Regions from separate parts of the Homo sapiens genome. Here region 2 is linked to region 1. Evidence: fine-mapped expression QTL. A gene starts in region 1. The other region holds a variant in brackets. All regions are shown on one strand. Distances are between the middles of the regions. Region 1 holds the start of ASB9 (ankyrin repeat and SOCS box containing 9). Region 2 overlaps ASB11 (ankyrin repeat and SOCS box containing 11).

The links. PIP is the estimated chance that this variant, and not a neighbour inherited with it, causes the effect.
Region 2: its variant is fine-mapped to the expression of ASB9 in whole blood (TOPMed, PIP 0.99).

The regions. Positions count from the first base shown.
Region 1 is chrX:15,264,965-15,275,288 of GRCh38, reverse strand. ASB9 (ankyrin repeat and SOCS box containing 9) reads left to right here and starts at 5,206. Exons shown (of 7, transcript NM_001031739.3): 1 at 5,206-5,508. The coding sequence starts at 5,415.
Region 2 is chrX:15,291,146-15,301,469 of GRCh38, reverse strand. It overlaps ASB11 (ankyrin repeat and SOCS box containing 11), which reads left to right. Exons shown (of 7, transcript NM_080873.3): 3 at 3,789-3,896; 4 at 8,150-8,300. Among named protein-coding and RNA genes, the nearest start is that of ASB11, 19 kb to the left of the region's middle. RefSeq lists an enhancer at 2,949-3,243. The variant C/T (reference allele first, on the strand shown) is at 5,886.

The sequences.
Region 1 (10,324 bases):
TTTTAGTGCACTGTTTTGAAAAGTCAATGTTAAGGCAAAAAGCCCATGATAGCCAAAATAGCCTGCAAGACAGGCTCTTGTTGTTTATGTCCCTGCATTATTGTGCAATGAGAATAGTGTTTCCAATCAGCCTCTGGTTCTGGGATATGTGGCTGCTGGGTTTTTGAGGAGTGACAATGCCATGCAAACAGATTGGGCAACGCAGGCTTTATACATACTTGTGTTTTGACTGCGCAGCTTACATTAACTTTTTATACTTGGTGCAAAATATGCATAAAGGCATACATTTCCCTTTTGGCCTCTTGCTCCCATATGGTTCAGCACAGAGCAGTTCAGTGTGCATCTCCTAAGAACACAGAGATTCTCCTGTGGAACTGTGGTGTAGTAATCACACACAGGAGGTTTGACACTGATGCACAACTATCCTGTATATCCAGATTTAAGTTCTCACACTTGTGGCATTAATGATATATTTTCTGTCATGTTCCACCATTCAGGATCTCTTTGAGGATCATGCATCGAACGTAGTTACCAAGTCTCTTTATTCTCTTTTAATCTAGAAAGCTTCCCGTCCCCGCTTTTGACTTTCATGCCATTGGCATTTTTGAAGAGTCCAGTCCCATTGTTATGTGATTATCTCTCAATTTTGATCCGCCTGATTGTTTCCTCAAGAATACTGCATAATGCCAGATTTTTGAAAAAACACATTCTTATTTGAGTCTTATCGTACTGCTTGGCGGAGTAGGACTGACTGACTTCTCTCTAAAGCAGTAGAAGCAGAGTATTCCACGTTGTCAGAGCAGATGTATACCTTTTAGGTGTTAAAGGTTTTGTGCTAGAAAAATTGCCAGCTGAAATAAGAAGAAGCTTCAGCTCCTGGACCAACTTTGACTGATTGGAAGTGACTTTGAAGGCTCCCCCAAGGTCTCAGTGTAACTGAGCATCCCAGCCTCAAAATGCATTTTAAAACTTTTTTTTTTCTTTCTTGCTTTCAGCGTTGAAACATACTTTGAAACTCTTTGTTTCTCTCTTTTCCACCAGGCACTTTTGTGAACAGTGCTCACTTATCTAATTACATGCTTGCTTAGAAATTCCAGGGGTCAATTTTTAAGCAAAAAAAAAAAAAAAGGCACAGAGACCCAGCAGCAGAATCCTCCTGCTTGGGGGAGTTATGAACAGTTAGCCCACCACTACCGGGCAGAAGTGAGGATGACACAAACTGGACTTCCGGGCTGGCGATTAGTAAAGATAGCCATGGGAAAGAGACACACAGAGCTCTTCCCTCCCTTGATATTCCCACATTTTCCCACACCTTTTTCCTCCATAAACCCCTTCACTCAGCCCAAAAAGTTGGAACGGTCTTTCAAAGGCAGGCCATTCTCCAACTGGTAATGTGTCCGGAGTTGGTTCCTTCCAGTGGGTTCTTGGTCTTGCTGACTTCAAGAATGAAACCATGGACCTTTGTGGTGAGTGTTACAGCTCTTAAAGGTGGCACAGACCCAAAGAGTGAGCAGCAGCAAGATTTATTCTGGAGAGTGAAAGAACAAAGCTTCCACAGCATGGAAGGAGACCCGAGCAGGTTGCTGCTGCTGGCTGGGGGGGTGGCCAGCTTTTATTCCCTTATTTGTCCCCGCCCACATCCTGCAGATTGGTCCATTTTACAGAGCGCTGATTGGTCCATTTTACAGAGTGCTGATTGGTGCATTTACAATCCTTTAGCTAGACACAGAGCACCGATTGGTGCGTTTTTACAGAGTGCTAATTGGTGCATTTACAATCCTTTGGACACAGAGCGCTGATTGGCGTGTTTTTAAGTGCTGATTGGTGCATTTACAATCCTTTAGCTAGACACAGAGTGCTGATTGGTGCATTTTTACAGAGTACTGATTGGTGCGCTTACAATCCTTTAGCTAGACACAGAGCACTGATTGGTGCGTTTTTACAGAGTGCTGATTGGTGCGTTTACAATCCTTTAGCTAGACACAGAGCGCTATTGGTGGGTTTTTATGGAGTGCTGATTGGTCCTTTTACAATTCTTTAGCTAGACACAAAAGTTCTCCAAGTCCCCACTCCACCCAGGAATTCCAGCTGGCTTCATCTCTCAGCAGCATTTAGATAAAGTTGATTTCCTTTCACCATACCTCTCGCTTCTTAAGTTTTCAGCCTCTTAGCAGCTGGACTTGAGCCGGCTACATTGGGGAGGAAAGAGTCTCCTAAACCATACCTGAGGTGTGCCTTGGACATCTAAGTGAGGGGTGGGGCAGAGGCCCTGGCTAGTGTGAACACTGCTCCTGGTGAGGAATGACTGTGGCCTTATCATCTGCTGCAGGCAACGATCATTCTGTTTTCTAACCTAACCTGTGCCAATTTCACTGAACATCCAGACACACACACTGACACACACCAAGGCTGACTAGAAGTTGGTAAGATTGCTTTTCTCTTATGGCTGTTGGTAAGCCAACCAATTTCTCCATAATCAAAGCTCATACACATGTGATTCAACTTTATCCTCATACAAATCCACAAATGCATGAACTCCCCTTGTAAAGAACTGTTGTTAAACAGTTTAAAAATTCATCTCCAATCCTCCTATTCACTGGTGTTGATCAACATCATAAATAAAATGAGAAGATTAAAGGCTGATGAATTAATTCCCTCCCAGGTACTAGGGAAACAACCTGGAAATCTTCTTTATTGTCATTTTGGAACTTAATTTTGAATATGGAAAAGGCTTATCTACTTGGAATTTAATTAAAAGTAAATAAAGAAGCTGTAGTACAAAGATTTTACTGGGAAGGAAAGGAAATAGTATCCAGTTTCCCCATTGTGCCCTTCTGTTCAACTCCTCATCCAGTCTGTGTTGGGAATCAATTCCTCACTCTCTGCCAAACAAATGTATCATTCTTCAGATCTTTCCTGATGGAGTGGTAAAGAATTTGTATGCTTATGGCCTTCTCAGTTAATTCTGCAAATAGAGATAGAGGGAAGTTTAGTAGTGTTTATCCAAATTTTAAATGAGCAGCCTCTTTTCAAAAAGTGCAATTTGTATTGAGATCATTACAGATTCACATGCAGTTGTAAGAAATCACATAGAGATCTCCAGTGCACTTTGCCCAGTTTCCCTCAATGGTGACTTTTTGCAAAACTATAGTACAATATTGTAACTGGGAAATCAACATTCATACAATCTACTGATCTTATTCAATTCCCCGGTTTTACTTGTACTCATTCCTGTGTGTGTCTTCAGTTTTATACAATTTATTACATGTGCATAAGTATGCCTTTGACTTAGCATTTCCACTCTTAGGAATCTCTCCTCTAGAAATATTTGCCTATGTGCACAAAGCCACATGTACAAAAATATGAACTTTAGTCCTTTCATAGTACTAACAGAAATAATGACATTCTGCTTGCATCATTAGGAGCATAATTAAATACTTCTGGCACAATATGGAATGCTATGCAACAGTGAATAAAGACAGGAGCATACCTATAAAAGCTGATATGGAAAGCTCTCACAGACAAAATAAGTGTAAAAAGCATAGAATAATAGAATAATATAGGGGCCGGGTGCGGTGGCTCACGCCTGTAATCCTAGCACTTTGGGAGGCCAAGGAAGGGGGATCACGTGAGATCAGGAGTTTGAGGCCAGCCTGGCCAACATGGTGAAACCCTGTTTCTACTAAAAATACTAAAATTAGCTGGGCACAGTGGTGCGCTCCTGTAATCCCAGGTACTCAGGAGGCTGAGGCAGGAGAATTGCTTGAGCTCAGGAGGTGAAAGTTGCAGTGAGCCGATATGACACCATGGCACTCGAGTCCAGGTGACAAAGTGAGACCCTGTCTCAAAAAAAAAAGAATAATATAGGTACATTTATGTGGAAAATGTAAATTGATAAATGTGCATACATGTGTATGCATATAAATGCCTTTAAAAACGTGAATTACACCCCTCAAACTGTTAATAACAGCCACCAAATGTTTTAACTGAGACTCCGTAAATCTAAAACATCTAGGCCTCATCTTTGGCATTAAGACAAATCTGCAATCACTTCACAGCCAGTCTATGCTTGAGACTTAACTCAGAGCCTTCCCCCATGGGGATGAAAAATCCTCTTCTACCTGGAAGAGAGGAATGGTGGGAGTCTAGAGGTGCCTGTCAGCCTGAAGTAGCACCCAGGGGTGTGAGGCAACTGGGTTTATCTGAAAAGACATGGACACAGTACATCCAAATTTTTTTTTTTTTGAGGTGGAGTCTCGCACTGTCGCCTGGGCTAGAGTGCAGTGGCATGATCTCGGCTCACTGCAACCTCTGCCTCCTGGGTTCAAGCGATTCTCCTGCCTCAGCATCCCGAGTAGCTGGGATTACAGGCGCCTGCCACCAGGCCCAGCTAATTTTTTTGTATTTTTAGTAGAGACGGGGTTTCACTATGTTAGTCAGGCTGGTCTCAAACTCCTGACCTCGTGATCCGCCCGCCTTGGCCTCCCAAAGTGCCGGGATTACAGGCATGAGCCACCGCGCCCGGCCCCTAATGTTTTGTATAAGCAAAAACAGCAAAACGTTAACAAAATAAATTTTAGTAATTCACAATGAAAAGATAGCAGGTCTCTTCCACATCTCAGGCCACCTAGCAATCCATTTTTCCAATTGCAACCGTTCATTATTTATTTAGAAGTTAAAATGAGTGGAGGAGGGGTGAGGTAGGACATTTAGTGAAATTCTTGCAGCTGAAAGGAACAAATGGTTCTTTCCAAAGGTACATTTTTTGTAACATATAGACACATTTCCCATAAGAAACTCCCAGCACAATTGAAAGCACATGTACAGATGGCCAGGGCGTGCTGTGCATGTTACTGTGCAAGCAATTCAGCAGGGCTGCTGCAAAACCAGCTTTCTCAGCTCTGGGTGCTCGGGCTTGTCTCCATAACAAGCTACCATGTAACAAACGGATCTCAGCAGGGTGAACAACAGTTGCAGAAAGTGAGCTGTTTCCTTCACCCCCACCCTGCTCCCTTCACTCTCAAAAGTTACAAACTGAGTTTCCTTCCTGATAAACTCCAAGGCTTCCTCACTGATTGGTCTCAGTTTGGGAAAGGACGTGACATCAGCAACTTCGCAGACTTAGGGCTGGAGGGTTCTTGTGGCCTCTGGCGGGCCTCCAGCCAGTTAGGTAAAACGTGTGTGTGTGTGTGTGTGTGTGTGTGTGTACACGAGCGCATGCCTCTCTCTGATCACAGGTAGCACTCAGATTACCCTGCCTGCTCTGTGCTTTGCTGCAGACCATTTGACCAGAACGTGTGCAGCTCAGCCAGCCACAGAACTGGAATTTTTCAGGAGCAGGGGGAGCATGGAGTTTGGACTTTGCTGAGCAACTGAAGTGGAGCGCAGAGCTTGCTCGCTTAGGAGAGAGCATCATGGATGGCAAACAAGGGGGCATGGATGGGAGCAAGCCCGCGGGGCCAAGGGACTTTCCTGGCATCAGGCTTCTTTCAAACCCATTGATGGGCGGTGAGTCATAGGGGCAGTGGAATCAGCCCTGGGGAGGTTGGCTAATGTGCTTAGGAGAGGAGGGTTGGGCAGTTTCAGTGGCTCTGTGTGAGGTGTCCATGGGGCTGTTACTGGGCAGATGTCCACAGCTCACTGGTATATATTCTTTACACAGCTGTTCAAAAATGTGTATACTTCTTTCTGCAGAATCCTACAGACAAGACAAATTCAATTGTCACAAATTATTCTCCAGTGAAAATTTCAGCTCCCAGGAATCATTCTTTGTGGGTCAAATGCATTATTTATTAAATTGGAGGTTTGAAAGTTACTTATAAATAGGAAAATTTTTAATGCTAAAACTTTTTAATTTGTAAGTCTTAGGTGTTTGGCATTTAGGTGGGGCAGGGTTTATAAAGATGTTCAAACATTGAGCACTGATTGAGTCACTTTCAAAAGAGACAAAAGAGACTTTGTTTTACTTAAAACATTGGAGAATCATCTTACAGGTATTGTTCTCATCTGTCAAGTGGTGTCTGTGCTAATGTACAGAATCCCACAAATACACACTTCGGTGAGCATTCAGCAGGTGCCTGTTGGCTGAAAGGATTCTGAAAAATGGGTTTAGGCATTTGCACACAGGTTCTTATAAATAATAGTATATTGGTTAGTAATATACTGGTTAACTCTCCAGCCCCAAGTCTGCAAACTTGCTGATGTCACGTCCTTTCCCAAACTGAGACCAATCAGTGAGGAAACCTTGGAGTTTATCGGGAAGGAAACTCAAAGTTCGTAACTTTCGGAGAGCAAAGGGAGCAGCAGGGTGAGGGTGAAGGCAACAGCTCACTTTCTGCAACTGTTGTTCACCCTGTTGAGATCCTTGGGGGCTTGTGACGGAGACAAGCCCCAGCACCCAGAGCTGGGAAAGCTGGTGTTGCAGCAGCCCTGCTGAATTGCTGTATTTATTATTTATTAATTTTTTTTTCTTTTTGAGACGGAGTCTTGCTCTGTGGCCCAGGCTGGAGTGCAGTGGCGCGATCTCGACTCACTGCAACCTCCGCCTCCCGGGTTCAGGCCTGTATATATAGGCGGGGCACGGTGGTTTACGCCTGTAATCCCAGTACTTTCGGAGGCCGAGGCGGGCAGATCACGATGTCAGGATACCATCCTGGCCAACATGATGAAATTCCGTCGCTACCTAAAATACAAAAATTAGCTGGGTGTGATGGCACGTGCCTGTAATCCCAGCTACTCGGGAGGCTGAGGCAGGAGAATCACTTGAACCCGGGAGGCGGAGGTTGCAGTGCACCTAGATCTCGCCACAGCACTCCAGCCTGGCGACAGAGTGAGACTCCGTATCAAAGAAAAAAGAAAAAAATATATACCTGGTATACTGTCCACAGCACCTGTTGATCAAAGGGGCAATAAACAGGGACCCTGAAGTCAGGGTGTTTTGTTTTGTTTTGTTTTTTTGAGACGGAGTCTCATTCTGTCGCCTGGGCTGGAGTGCAATGGCGAGATCTCCGCTCACTGCAACCTCTGCCTCCCGGGTTCAAGAGATTCTCCTGCCTCAGCCTCCCGAGTAGCTGGGATTATAAGCGCCCGCCACCACACCCGGCTAATTTTTGTATTTTTAGTAGAGACGGGGTTTCACCACGTTGGCCAGGCTGGTCTAGAACTCCTGACCTCAGGTGATCTGCCCGCCTGGGCCTCCCAAAGTGCTGGGATTACAGGTGTGAGCCACCACGCCCGGCCGTCAGTCAGGGTTTATTAATCTACTATACAGGTACCAAAAAGGTAAAAATGGAAGAAATAAAACACAAAACGTCTTCCCTTTGACTGAGTAGACTAGCCTGCTCATTCATTCATTCATTTATCCAATTTCACTTATAAAATGAGCAGAGTACTCAATGGTGAGTGGGATTTAGATCCACAAAGGCAGAACTGGATTAATCAGCAGATGTATTGAGCATGAGTTTGGAGAACTAGGAAAGCAAGAGTGGCATCAAAAATCACTTTTCACAAAGAATTTCTTTTTTTTTTTTTTTTTTTGTTTTTTTTGAAGTGGAGTTTCACTCTGTCACCCAGGCTGGAATGCAGTGGAGCAATCTCAGCTCACTGCAAACTCCACCTTCCCGTGTTCAAGCGACTTTCCTGCCTCAGCCTCCTGAGTAGCTGGGATTACAGGCGTCCGCCACCACACCCAGCTGATTTTTGTATTTTTAGTAGAGACGGGGTTTCACCATGTTAGCCAGGATGGTCTCAATCTCCTGACCTCGTGATCCGCCCGCCTTGGCCTCCCAAAGTGCTGGGATTACAGGCGTGAGCCACCACGCCCGGCCACTTTTTACAAGGAATTATATATATAATTATATATATATATATATTTTTTTTTTAGATGGAGTCTCGCTCTGTTACCAGGCTGGAGTGCAGTGGCACCATCTCGGCTCACTGCAACCTCGGCCTCCTGGGTTCAAGCAATTCTGCCTCAGGAGGGAGAGGCAGGGACTAGGTGGGACTACAGGCACACGCCTGGCTAATTTTTTGGGGTGTTTTTTTTTTGTATTTTAGTAGAGACGGGGTTTCACCATGTTGCCCCAGGCTGGTCTCCAACTCCTGAGCTCAGGGAAGTCTGCCCGCCTCGGCCTCCCAAAGTGCTAGGATTACAGGTGTGAGCCACTGTGCCCGGCCGATAAATATATTTTTAAAACAGCAAACCAATCATTATGGGAAAGAATCGGTAATTTGGTTGACTTCTGCACGGTTATTTTATAGCTAAGTATTGTATTTATTTTTGTTTCCACATGGGAGAGAGGCACCAGCCACTTTTCACTGTTAGGGTTTCTTTTTCTTTTTTTTTTTTTTTTTTGAGATGGAGTCTCGCTCTGTCGCCCAGGCTGGAGTGCAGTGGCACAATCTTGGCTCACTGCAAGCTCCGCCTCCCGGGTTCACGCCATTCTCCTGCCTCAGCCTCCTGAGTAGCTGGGACTACAGGCGCCCGCCACCACGCCCGGCTAATTTTTTGTATTTTTAGTAGAGACGGGGTTTCACCATGTTAGCCAGGATGGTCTCAATCTCCTGACCTCGTGATCCACCCACCTTGGCCTCCCAAAGTGCTGGGATTACAGGCGTGAGCCAACTGTTCAGGATTTCTAAAGTTCCTAATACAACCCTGGTGGGGTCAGGGTGGGTGAGTGGGAGTGGGCAGGTGTTATACGCAAAGGCATGGTGCTTGTAAAGTCAACAAGTTTTTACAGCTAGAGTGCAAAATGTGAATGTCTTAGGGAGTCTAGTGAGAACAAGTTTGAAGAGATGGAGTGGCAGATAAAGCTTGAAGAGCTAAGTGGAGGAGGTCAGGCTTCATGAGGCAGGAAATTGAGAGCCATTGGTGGTTCTAGAACAGAGACCTGGTAATAAGGCTGTAGGTCAATTAACATGGTAGCCACAGCTGGGATAGATTGTGTTGGAATCGTGGGAGATGGTTGCATTCATCCAGTGGTTCTCAAATTCTCATGTGCCTCTACATCACCTGGAGAGCTTATTGAAATACAGATAATGCAGCTTCTGGCTGGGCACGGTGGCTCACGCCTGTAATCCCAGCACTTTGGGAGGCTGAGGTGGGCGGATCACTTGAGGTCAGGAGTTCCAGACCAGCCTATCCAACATGGTGAAACCCCATCTCTACTAAAAATACAAACATTTGACTGGGTGCAGTGCCTCACACCTGTAATCCCAGCACTTTGGGAGGCCGAGGCAGGCGGATCACCTGAGGTTGGGAGTTCCAGACCAGCCTGACCAACATGGAGAAACCCAGTCTTTACTAAAAATACAAAATTAGCCGGGCATGGTGGTGCATGCCTGTAATCCCAGCTACCCGGGAGGCTGAGGCAGGAAAGTCGCTTGAACCCGGGAGGCAGAGGTTGTGGTGAGCCGAGATCACACCACTGCACTCCAACCTGGGCAACAAGAGTGAAACTCTGTCTCAAAAAAAAAAAAAAAAATTAGCTGGGTGTGTTGGCACATGCCTGTAGTCCCAGCTACTTAGGAGGCCGAGGCAGGAGAATTGCTTGAACTTGGGAGGGCGGAGGTTGCAGTGAGCTGAGATCATGCCACTGTACTCCAGCCTGGGCAACAGAGCGAGACTCTGTCTCAAAAAAAAAAAATGCAGATGATGCAGCTTTTGATGAAGTCGTAGGCCTGGGGTGGGGGCCTAGGAATCTGCATTCATAACAAACTCCCAGGTGAAATGGATGGTACTGGTCAGGGACCATACTTTGAAAACTACTGCACTAATCCAACCATGAAACTTACATTTGGATCGAACTTTGGAAATGACAGAGAAAGGGCGATGATTTCAAAGGAAAGATAAATCAGCGTATGTTGCTTGATTAAATGTTGGAACTAACAGAAGGCAGGCAAAATTATAAGGTTCTCAAGCCCAAAGTAATGTCAGATAAGCTAGATAAGAGGGAAGTTGGAAAGGAAGTTGCCTTGGATGCAGGATGAGGAGGGGAGGATACAGAGTTCTGTTTTGGACATGATAGTGCTAACAATGATGCCCAGTGCACAGTATGATGACATGGGACTGAGACTTAGGAACGATCACAGGTTAGAAGCCAGATACCTCAGAATGTCCTACAGAGGGGCTGTGGTTGAAACCTAGGGAAGGGAGAAATTGTCCAATGGCTAAGAGCTGAGAGTCAACCAAGGATGGAACCCTGGGACAGGCCTCCAGTTGATGAAGTAGGACCAGTAAGTTGGACAGAGAAGCAGAAAGAGATTCTGGATGTTGTAATTACACAGGTGCTAAGGGAAGAGAAGTTTTCAAAGAAGTAGAAGT
Region 2 (10,324 bases), 26 kb before region 1:
ATTTCTCCTTTATGAGTTGTGTTACTTCTTAAAAAGTAGAGGTAAATGGAAATCAGCACTGCCAGCAATGATCAAATGAACTTTGTACCTGATTTTATCACTTGCTTATTTATTTTTAAGTACTTTAAATTGGATGTGATTTGATTATTTTTAATAGGTAATATATTCACATAGTTCAAAAATTACAATTATTTAAAAAGGTGGACTGGCCGGATGTGGTGGCTCACGCCTGTAATCCTAGCACTTTAGGAGGCCAAGGTGGGTGGATCACCTGAGGTCAGGAGTTCGAGACCAGCCTGGGCAACATGGTGAAACCCCATCTGTACTAAAAGTACAAAAATTAGCCAGGCGTGGTGGTGGGCGCCTATAATCCCAGCTACTTGGGAGGCTGAGGCAGGAAAATCGTTTGAACCTGGCGGGGTGGAGGTTGCAGTGAACCGAGATCGCGTCACTTCACTCCAGCCTGGGTGAAAGAGTGAAACTCTGTCTCAATAAAATAAATAAATAAATAAAATTAAAAAGGTGCACAATGAAACGTCTTGCACCCACCTCTTCTCTCTCAGTCTCCCACCCACCTCTTCTCTCTCAGTCTCCCACCTCAATACTTTCATTGGTATATTTTTAATAGGCTTTTTAAATTTTTGTATAATTTTAAAGAAGAGTTGAAAAGGATACAGACAGTTCCCATATACACTGTACCCTTCACCCAACTTCCTTTAATATTGACATCTTACATAGCTATGGTACATTAGTCAAAAATACGAAGTTAACATTGATACAATACCACTGACTAAACTGCACACTATTGTGATTTCACCAGTTTTTCCTCTCATGTCCTATTTCTGTTCCAGGATCCCACATTGCACTAACTATACTTAATAAGCATATTAGCTTCAATAATATGGTTAAATGTGTAAGGGGGCATTCTTTATACAAAAGTTCAACTTTTTCTTTTACACCCCTACTTCTTTACTCTTATACACTGTTAAAAAATGTATTTGTCTACTTTTATAAACTTTATTTTACATTTAGATAATATGATCGATGTGAGTAAAACATTAAACCGATATGAGTAAAACATTAAGCTAATGTGAGTAAATGTGAGTAAAACATTAAACCAAGATTCAGGAGCTCTTGGTTACACTGCTGGCTGTCACTGACAACCAGTCTTAAAAAGTATTTGAACATTCTACTCCTCCATTTTCTCATGCACAATTGAGGTGATCCACTCTAGATGATCTTTCAGGCCTTTCCAGCATCACATTTCTACAATTTCAGGGATTCTGAGATTTTGCACCGTAACAGTTTTTTCTAGCACACTTCTGCCACCTTGTGGACTAGTCTGTTTTTTCTTATTTTCTCAAAAGGAAAAGAAAAATGAAAAGACTTTTTCTAACTCTTATTAGATGCCCAGTTTGAAATATGTAGCACAGATCTAGAGTAATGATGTCATATTCAGGACATGAAAATAGACAGAATTCAGGAGTCAAAAAGAGGCCTTATGATGAAGGGACAATTCTGGGAAATCACAGCTGCTGGCCACAGCAAGGATGCAGCCAGAGATCTGGCAGGAGATGGTGGCCGTGTAAGTAGGAGTTCGGGGTTCAGGGTCATGGCATTGGGTTTTGGAAGCTTTCAGTTGGTCAGTTACAAGGCATAGGATCAAAAGCAGGACTCGGCTGGGAAGGACAGACCAGGGACCTAATTCCTTTTATAAATCAAAAATAAAATTCTAAGCACCCCCTCTCCAACCATCTGAATGTACCCCTCCTCTCAGCCAGGGCATTCCAAAACTAACCTGAAAAACTGGTTCAGGCCATGACAGGAAAGGGGGGTTGAACATGCCTCATTATACCCTCCTCCCTTTTGGAACTCAGGAAAAGATGACCAGAATTTAACATCAACACAGACCTTAAGTCTGATAAGAAACATTTACAATCTATTCTCTCTGAAGCCTGCTACCTGGAGGCTTCATCCACATGATAAAACTTTTGTCTCCACAACCCCTTATTGTAACCCAGACAGACATTTCTATTGATAATAACTCTTTCAACCAATTGCCAATCAGAAAAATTTTCAATCTGTCTATAATCTGGAGCCCCAGGCCCCCACTTTGAGTTGTCCAACCTTCCCAGGCCAAACAAATGTACATTTTACATGTATTTGATTGATGTCTCATGTTTCCCTAAAATGTATAAAACTAGGCTGTGCCCTGACTACCCTGGGCACATGTTCTCTGGATCTCCTGAGAGCTTGTCACAGGCCATTGGTCACTTATATTTGGCTCAGAATAAATCTCTTCAAATATTTTATAGTTTGACTGTTTTTGTCAACACTTTTGCAGATAGAACGTGATCATCAGAGGGAGGGAAATGGTAAGAGCCAAGTTGTTAAAATCAGGTTATGAAGTCAGAGTTGTCCAGCAGCTAGGCTGACCTTGTCATCTGTCACATGGAGTCCAGGACAAGGAAGGGGACACATGGTAGTATGGGGAGGGAGAATGTGTTAGGACAGGGTGGAGGCACTCATACCTGGGTGAGGAGATGAAGGTTAGGAGAAGTCCGCTGGCCCCGGACTCTAGGACTTCAGAGACCTCTGCACACAGTGGAGTCATGGCTGAAGCAGTGCTGCTACTCCACAGCACATGAATCCTAGGAGCACAGTCTACTTACTCTTAAGCCTGGGAGTTATTGTTTTGTTTCAGATCCAGCTCGACCTCCTGAACTTGTCTGCACTCCATCATCTATACCTCATACCTACTGTTATTCACAGCCACAGCAGGCCCATGCCAGCCTGTTCCTAGACTCATAGTGACATCTCTGTGGCTCTCCTTGCTTTGGTCTTACATCCCTACTCCTGCAATCAACCCTCCATGCTGCTACCAGTAAGCTTCTAAAAAGGCTAATCTATTAGCTCCAGACCCTCCGCAGCCTAGCAGACTTCATAGGTGCTCCATTTCCTCTAAGACATGCCCTCCTTGTTTGGAAATCAAGGCCTTTCATGACCTAGCTCCAGCTTACTGTCCTCCTTTGTCTCCTCCCATCTCCTGCTTCTACTTTCTGTGGGTTCTTTCTGTTCCAGAAATCCGACTGTGGCCCTGCCACAGGAAGCAACAGGAAGCAACAGGAAATAACTTCCTGTTGCTTCCTGAATTTGCAGTTTCTATTCTCTCCTAATGGCATACTCTTTCTTGGTCTTCACAGCTTGAAACATTTTATGCTTCAAGTCTTAGCTAAATACTACCTCATTTGCAAGGTTTTTCTTACTCCCCAAGCCAGATTCAAGGATATCCTATGCTCCCAAACTAATTTTGGACATGCTTCCAGTATAGCAATATTCTTGCTCTTTTGTCTTTCATTTCTGCCTCCCCAGTAGGCTCTGGGAGAAGAGAGACCCATGTCATAAGTTTTGAAGACCCAGGTCCTAGTACATTACCTGCTCCAGAATGCAGAATTAACATTCTTTTGGATAAATGAATGTGAGGCTGTCATGCTGTCTTTAGGCTCCCCTGATCGTAACTTCTACTTCTCTCTCTATGGTACTAATATTACACCCACAGACTGTGAAAATGTCAGAAACATGTGAAACAACATTGCTTTCATTGCTATCACTAATGCAGTATTTCACTCTCTTCTGCTGGGCTTGGTGGCTTGCACTTGAAATCCCAGCTACTCAGGATGCTGAGGCAGGAAGATCACTTGAGGCCAGGAGTTTGAGACCAGCCTGGGCAACACAGTGAGACCCCAGTCTGTAAAAAATAAATAAACTCTCTTCTTTCTAAATTATAGGGTGTCAATGTGAACCTTGTGACAATTAACCGGGTGTCTTCTCTCCACGAGGCATGCCTTGGAGGTCACGTGGCCTGTGCCAAAGCCTTATTGGAAAATGGTGCACACGTGAGTACTGCCCCTGCCCACTTGGGTCTGTCTGGCCAGATGCATCTGTTAATGTTTAATGATAGTTTACCTTCCAGATGGCTTACCCACTGTGGGTAAGGGCTGGGCTGGTTCTATCCATGTCCGTATTCCATCATTTAGGCTACTCCTCTCTCTTCAACTTACCCCCCTGTGTGTAAATATTCAGACATGGCAACTCACAGGAACCTTTTAAAACTGTGTTGCTGACCTTAAGAAATCTTTATTGTACCATGTTTTTTTTTTGTTTTGTTTTGTTTTGTTTTTGAGACGGAGTCTCACTCTGTCGCCCAGGCTGGAGTGCAGTGGCACAATCTCCGCTCACTGCAAGCTCTGCCGGGGTTCACGCCATTCTCCTGCCTCAGCCTCCCCAGCAGCTGGGACTACAGGCACACGCCGCCACGCCCGGCTAATTTTTGTATTTTTAGTAGAGACAGAGTTTCACTGTGTTAGCCAGGATGGTCTTGATCTCCTGACCTTGTGATCCACCTGCCTCGGCCTCCCAAAGTGCTGGGATTACAGGCGTGAGCCACCGCGCCCGGCCTTGTACCATGTTTTCTTTATGCATTCATCTGTTGGTGGACACTTGGGTTGCTTTCAGGTCTTTGCAATTGTGAACAGTGCTGCATCAGACATGGGAGTGCAGATATCTCTTGGATATACTGTTTTCCTTTCTTCTGGGTATATACCCAGCAGTAAGATTGTTGGATCATATGGTATCTCTGTTTTTAGTTTTCTGATGAACCTCCAAACTGTTCCCCATAATGGTTGTACTAATTTATAATCCCACTAACACTGTATGAGGCTTAATAACAAGATTTTAAAGAACAATAGAAAACACTCTTAATTCAACACCTTAAATGAACAACTATTTTTATTGAGCAAAATTATCAAAATGAGCGAGCTTTTAATAAATAATACATTGGGGGAAACCTACAGAATTGAACTTTATCTTATTTTAAATTTATCTCCAAACTTTTTTCAAAGGGTGACTGAGGTGCAATATATAATACAGATATCAGAATAGAATCATAAAATCACAACTTCTAAAAATCTTCTGTGTTTAGTTGCCAGATGTTCTTTGTTTCTAATTTTGTTGTTTAACTCAGTCCTTGCATTATTTACTTTATGAGCTGCAATGTTTTTAAGTGCTTAATGACAATTTAAAACATTTTATATGGAAATCGGGTTTCTACATGTAGAACTGAATATAAAAGTCTTCCTTGTGAAAACTAATTTTCCTGATGCCATTGTGGTCGTGCATTTTCTTTTTTTGTTTTTTTTTTTTCCATCTTTTTATTTTTAGACAGAGTCTCACTAACACTGTTGCCCAAGCTGGAGTGCAGTGGCACAATCTCAGCTCACTGCAAACTCCACTTCCTAGATTCGAACGATTCCCCTGCCTCAGCCTCCTGAGTAACTGGGATTACAGGTGCCCGCCACCACGTCCAGCTAATTTTTGTATTTTTAGTGCAGTAATTTTTGTATTTTTAGTGAAACCAGCGATGCTGGTTTCAGACTCCTGACCTCAGGTGATCCGCCCGCCTTGGCCTCCCAAAGTGCTGGGATTACAGGCGTGAGCCACCGTGCCCTGCCAAGTGGTCATGCATTTTCATTAGGTAGTGCTTCTCTAAGTTACCACTCAGTCAGCTCATGGGTAATGATGAAGGAAGGCTGTGTGAGAGCCGTTTCCTTTCAAGCTAGATGACTGGAGTCACAGGCAGACTGCTGACAATATCAGGTCAGAGAGGAGGTTTTGTTGGGCACAAAGAGAAGAATAAGACATGTTTCCTTGTCTTTGTCAATTTTATAAAGAAACAGCCAATAAATACTGTAGCACACCATTTAACATTTAAATCAGAATGAGAAACGAAATAAGAGAAAGTTGGTCCATCAGTAGAAAGTCCCCCACAATTGGCAGTCCCATGAATACCTCAAACTCAGTGCATTTGTAACTGAGCTTATCATGTT[C/T]TTCCCTCTGGGACCTGCTCCTCATCTTGGGTTCCTAGTTTCAGAGGCCTGGTGAAAGAAACATCCTCTTGGTTTCCCAAGCTGCAAACCTGAGAGTCATCTTATTTCTTTCATCTCCCTATCTAATTAATTAAAAACTCCTGCTAATTTTACTTTCTAAGTTTTTCCCAAGTCTATCCTCTCCTTTATCCTACTCCCATAGTCATCTAAATTATTTATTATATTTTCAAAATGATTTCTTTTTGGCCAGGCACAGTGGCTCACGCCTGTAATCCCAGCACTTTGGGAGGCTGAGGCAGGTAGATCATGAGATCAAGAGATCAAGACCATCCTGGCCAACATGGTGAAACCCCGTCTCTACTAAAAATACAAAAACTAGCTAGGCATGGTGGCACGCGCCTGTAGTCCCAGCTTCTTGGGAGCCTAAGGCAGCAGAATCTCTTGAACCCAGGAGGCGGAGGTTGCAGTGAGCCGAGATCACACCACTGCACTCCAGCCTGGCAACAGAGCAAGACTCCATCTAAAAAATAAAAAAATTAAAAAAAATTCTTTTTGTATTTGTCTTCCCTAATGGAATTCAGCCTACTCAAGGAGAGGCAATTGTTCAGCCCACTCAAGGAGAGGCAATTGTCTTATCATTGTTTCCAAAACATTAGCACCTAGTAGATGCTCAATAAATGTTTGTTGACGTGAACTAAGAGAAATTTATAGGAAATCGCATAAGAAGACAACTTCCTAGACTGAGGGTGAGGATGAAACTTAGTAAAACACAAATCAAACTAGTCCTACCAAATATTTTTTAGTAAAAATATAGAAACCCCTAGCAATATAAATTTACACACATTTTCCCCTGACCTTGTCTGTCTCTGCCATCTTAGCATATTATCTTTAACTTTCCAATTTAATGGGGGTTAGGCTGGGTGTGGTGGCTCACACCTGTAATCCCTGCCCTTTGGCAGGCTGAGGCAGGAGGGTCATTTGAACCCAGGAGTTTGAGACCAGCCTGGGCAAGATAGCTAGACGCTGTCTACAAATAATTTTTCTAAATTTGTGGGTCATGGTGGTGCACGCCTGTAGTCCCAGCTGCTCAGGAGGCTGAGGCAGGAGGATCATTTGAGCCTAGGAATTCGAGGCTGCAGTGAGCTATGATCATGACACTGCACTCCAGCCTGGATAGCAGAGCAAGACCCTGTTTCACGGGTTATATTGCAACTCTGGAAACAAGTCTTTTTTTGTGTCCAAAGCAAGGACATTTAGAATCCTGATTATCACAAGCATGCATCCTTAGTTGTTGAAGCAAAATTGTTTCACATCACAAACTTGACTGTCCTATATTTCAATGGCATCAGAGGCTCCCTACCACTCCTGCGGTTCCCGATGTTCTTTCCAATCTATTGCTGATACACAAAGATGTCTCCCAGCCCTGCTGGTTCTCATGTGCTTCCCACATCCCTACAAGGTACCAAAGATGGTTGCAGACACCATGTTGATGGCTATTTTCTTTCCTTTTTTTAAATTTAATCTTTTAATTTTATTTATTTATTTTTATTTTTATTTTTTATTATACTTTAAGTTTTAGAGTACATGTGCACAACGTGCAGGTTTGTTACATATGTATACATGTGCCATGTTGGTGTGCTGCACCCATTAACTCGTCATTTACATCCTAATGCTATCCCTCCCCCCTCCCCCCACCCCACAACAGTCCCCGGTGTGTGATGTTCCCCTTCCTGTGAAACCAACCCAAATGTCCAACAATGATAGACTGGATTAAGAAAATGTTGATGGCTATTTTCTATGTCCCTTTGGCTTGGTCATGCTATCTCTAGAAGTAACAGCTGGCATGTGTAATTTGCATGGATTATAGTAGACCAGAGAGGAAGTTGTGGCAAGAAAGACAGTAGATCTGTGGAGAATTGCCAAGGATTTTGTAAGCATGGATTTTGGGACCACAGCCTGCCATGTTTGTTCATGATTCAGAGGGGAGTCATATTAATGGAAAATGGAAAATGGAAATAATTGTTGTTGCAAATGCTTATTGAGTGCTTACTGGGTGACATGTAATGTTTTAAGTGTTTACATATAGTAACTCGCTCGATCCACCCAATAACTTCATGAGGTTTCATAATACTGTAAAGATGTGGAGTTCCCTCACTTATTCACCAGCGTGGGGAATTCCTCTAGGCAAATACATAGGAAGACATACTTGGAGATGGTGAGAATGAAATAACAAATCCTTTGGGTCTCTCTTTGCCCATCATTAGGTCAATGGAGTGACAGTTCACGGAGCCACACCCCTCTTCAATGCTTGCTGCAGCGGCAGTGCTGCATGTGTCAATGTGCTGCTGGAGTTCGGAGCCAAGGCCCAGTTGGAGGTGCACCTGGCCTCGCCCATCCATGAGGCAGTGAAGAGAGGTAAATGAGCCACCACAATGCATGTGAAACATTGATGGGCTCACTCCAATCTGTATGAATCAATGGTCTAGTGTTAGTCATTCAAGGGTGACCCTGATCTTCCTCACCATTAGAATATGTGTGGCCTAGAAATCCCACAGCAGTAACTTCAATTTGCCTAAATCTTCAGGAAATACCAGTGTGGCACAAAAGAGCCCTACTTATAACTTCGGAATGCTTTCCTGACTCCAATTTCCCATTTCCTGGGGATGGTCTATTGGCAGGCCTTTCCAGATCCTCTTTGCTGGTGTTTTGGTGGCAGCTGGTACAGCCAAGGCAGTAGTTCTGACTTCCCTGAATTGTACTATGCTTATGTCTCTGTCCTTAGTAGGCAAGAATAGCTTATCCTCTAAAGCCCATAAAATACCAACCACTAACCTAAAATAAACTATGAAAGTATCTGAAAGCCAAGGCTGATACTATCTCTAATGGAATAGTAAATATAACCGTTCATAATAAGTTACACAATCTAGATGGGCTGATGACTTCAAGGTCATAGTTATTGAAAAGAAAAGGCTGCAACTTTCCAAAGTATAGCATTGGTAATCTTGAAGCTGACTCTAGACTCCTGTGTTGTCAGTTAATTTCCAAGTGAAGGAAAATAGTAAATTTAAGGAATTTAAAGACTGTATGTACAGACTAGACCTGAACCGAGAAGATGCCACTGAAAGGAGAAGGCCATTTGTCAAAGGTCACACCCAAAGAGCAACATTTTGATGATAGCAAGTGAGGGAGTTGTTCTCTTATACTGAGATCAGAAATACAATGGTGAAGTTAAAACACTCTAGAATAGTGATCTTTGCTGGTGTAACTGGAGATGAAATATTTTATTTCAAAAAGCAAAAGTGAAAGATTTGTTCCAGGTTATTAAACATGTCACTTGCCAATTTTTTCCAGTGGATTACTTTAAATGATGCAAAAGACCCAAATCTAAATTTATCTATGTATTTTATGTTCTAAATGTATTTAATACATATTTATTAATTAATAGCTGATGTTAGTCATTTCCCAAACATCATGTAAGTCCTTTAAGTTGTAGAGTAATGAACTACTTTGGAAATGATATAAATGTCTTTCTTTCTTTTTTTTTTTTTTTTCGACAGAGTCTCGTGCTGTTGCCCAGGCTGCAGTGCAGTGGCATGATTTCTGCTCATTGCAACCTCTGGCTCCTGGGTTCAAGCGATTCTCCTGCCTCAGCCTCCCAAGTAGCTGGGATTACAGGTGCCCGCCACCACAATTGGCTAATTTTTGTATTTTTAGTAGAGATGGGGTTTCACCATGTTGGCCACTCTGGTCTCGAACTCGACCTCAGGTGATCCACCTGACTCGGCCTCCCAAAGTGCTGGTATTACAGGCATGAGCCACCGTGCTCAGCCATATAAGTCTTTTTTTTTTAATTTTTTTAAATTTTTTTTTTATTTTTTGAGACAGAGTCTTGCTCTGTCTCACAGGCTGGAGTGCAATGGCACAATCTCGGCTCACTGCAACCTCCACCTCCTGGGTTCAAGCAATTCTCCTGCCTCAGCCTCCCACGTAGCTGAGATTACAGGCACCTGTCACAGTGCCCAGCTGATTTTTGTATTTTTTAGTAAAGACAGGGTTTCATCATGTTGGCCAGGCTGGTCTCAGACTCCTGACCTCAGGTGATCCACCCACCTCAGCCTTCCAAAGTGCTGGTATTACAAAAAGTCTTTATTAAAAATTTAATATTGATTTGAAGTAAATTTTTGAAGTAAAAATTAATATTATTTGTATTTCCATACAAATGTTTAAAAATTGATAAGTACTGAGAATGGTTTGAATTAATTAAGTATGTCTGCAGTGCTTGACTGATTATATTTGGAGCTTTTGGTATCTATGTGCCTATAAAACATATATATGCTCATAATAAACACATAATTTGTGTGTCTCTGTATATTTTTCTGTACTGTAAAAGCATGTTAAGGATAAATATCCACAGAATGTAAGCATGATTAGCAAATTCA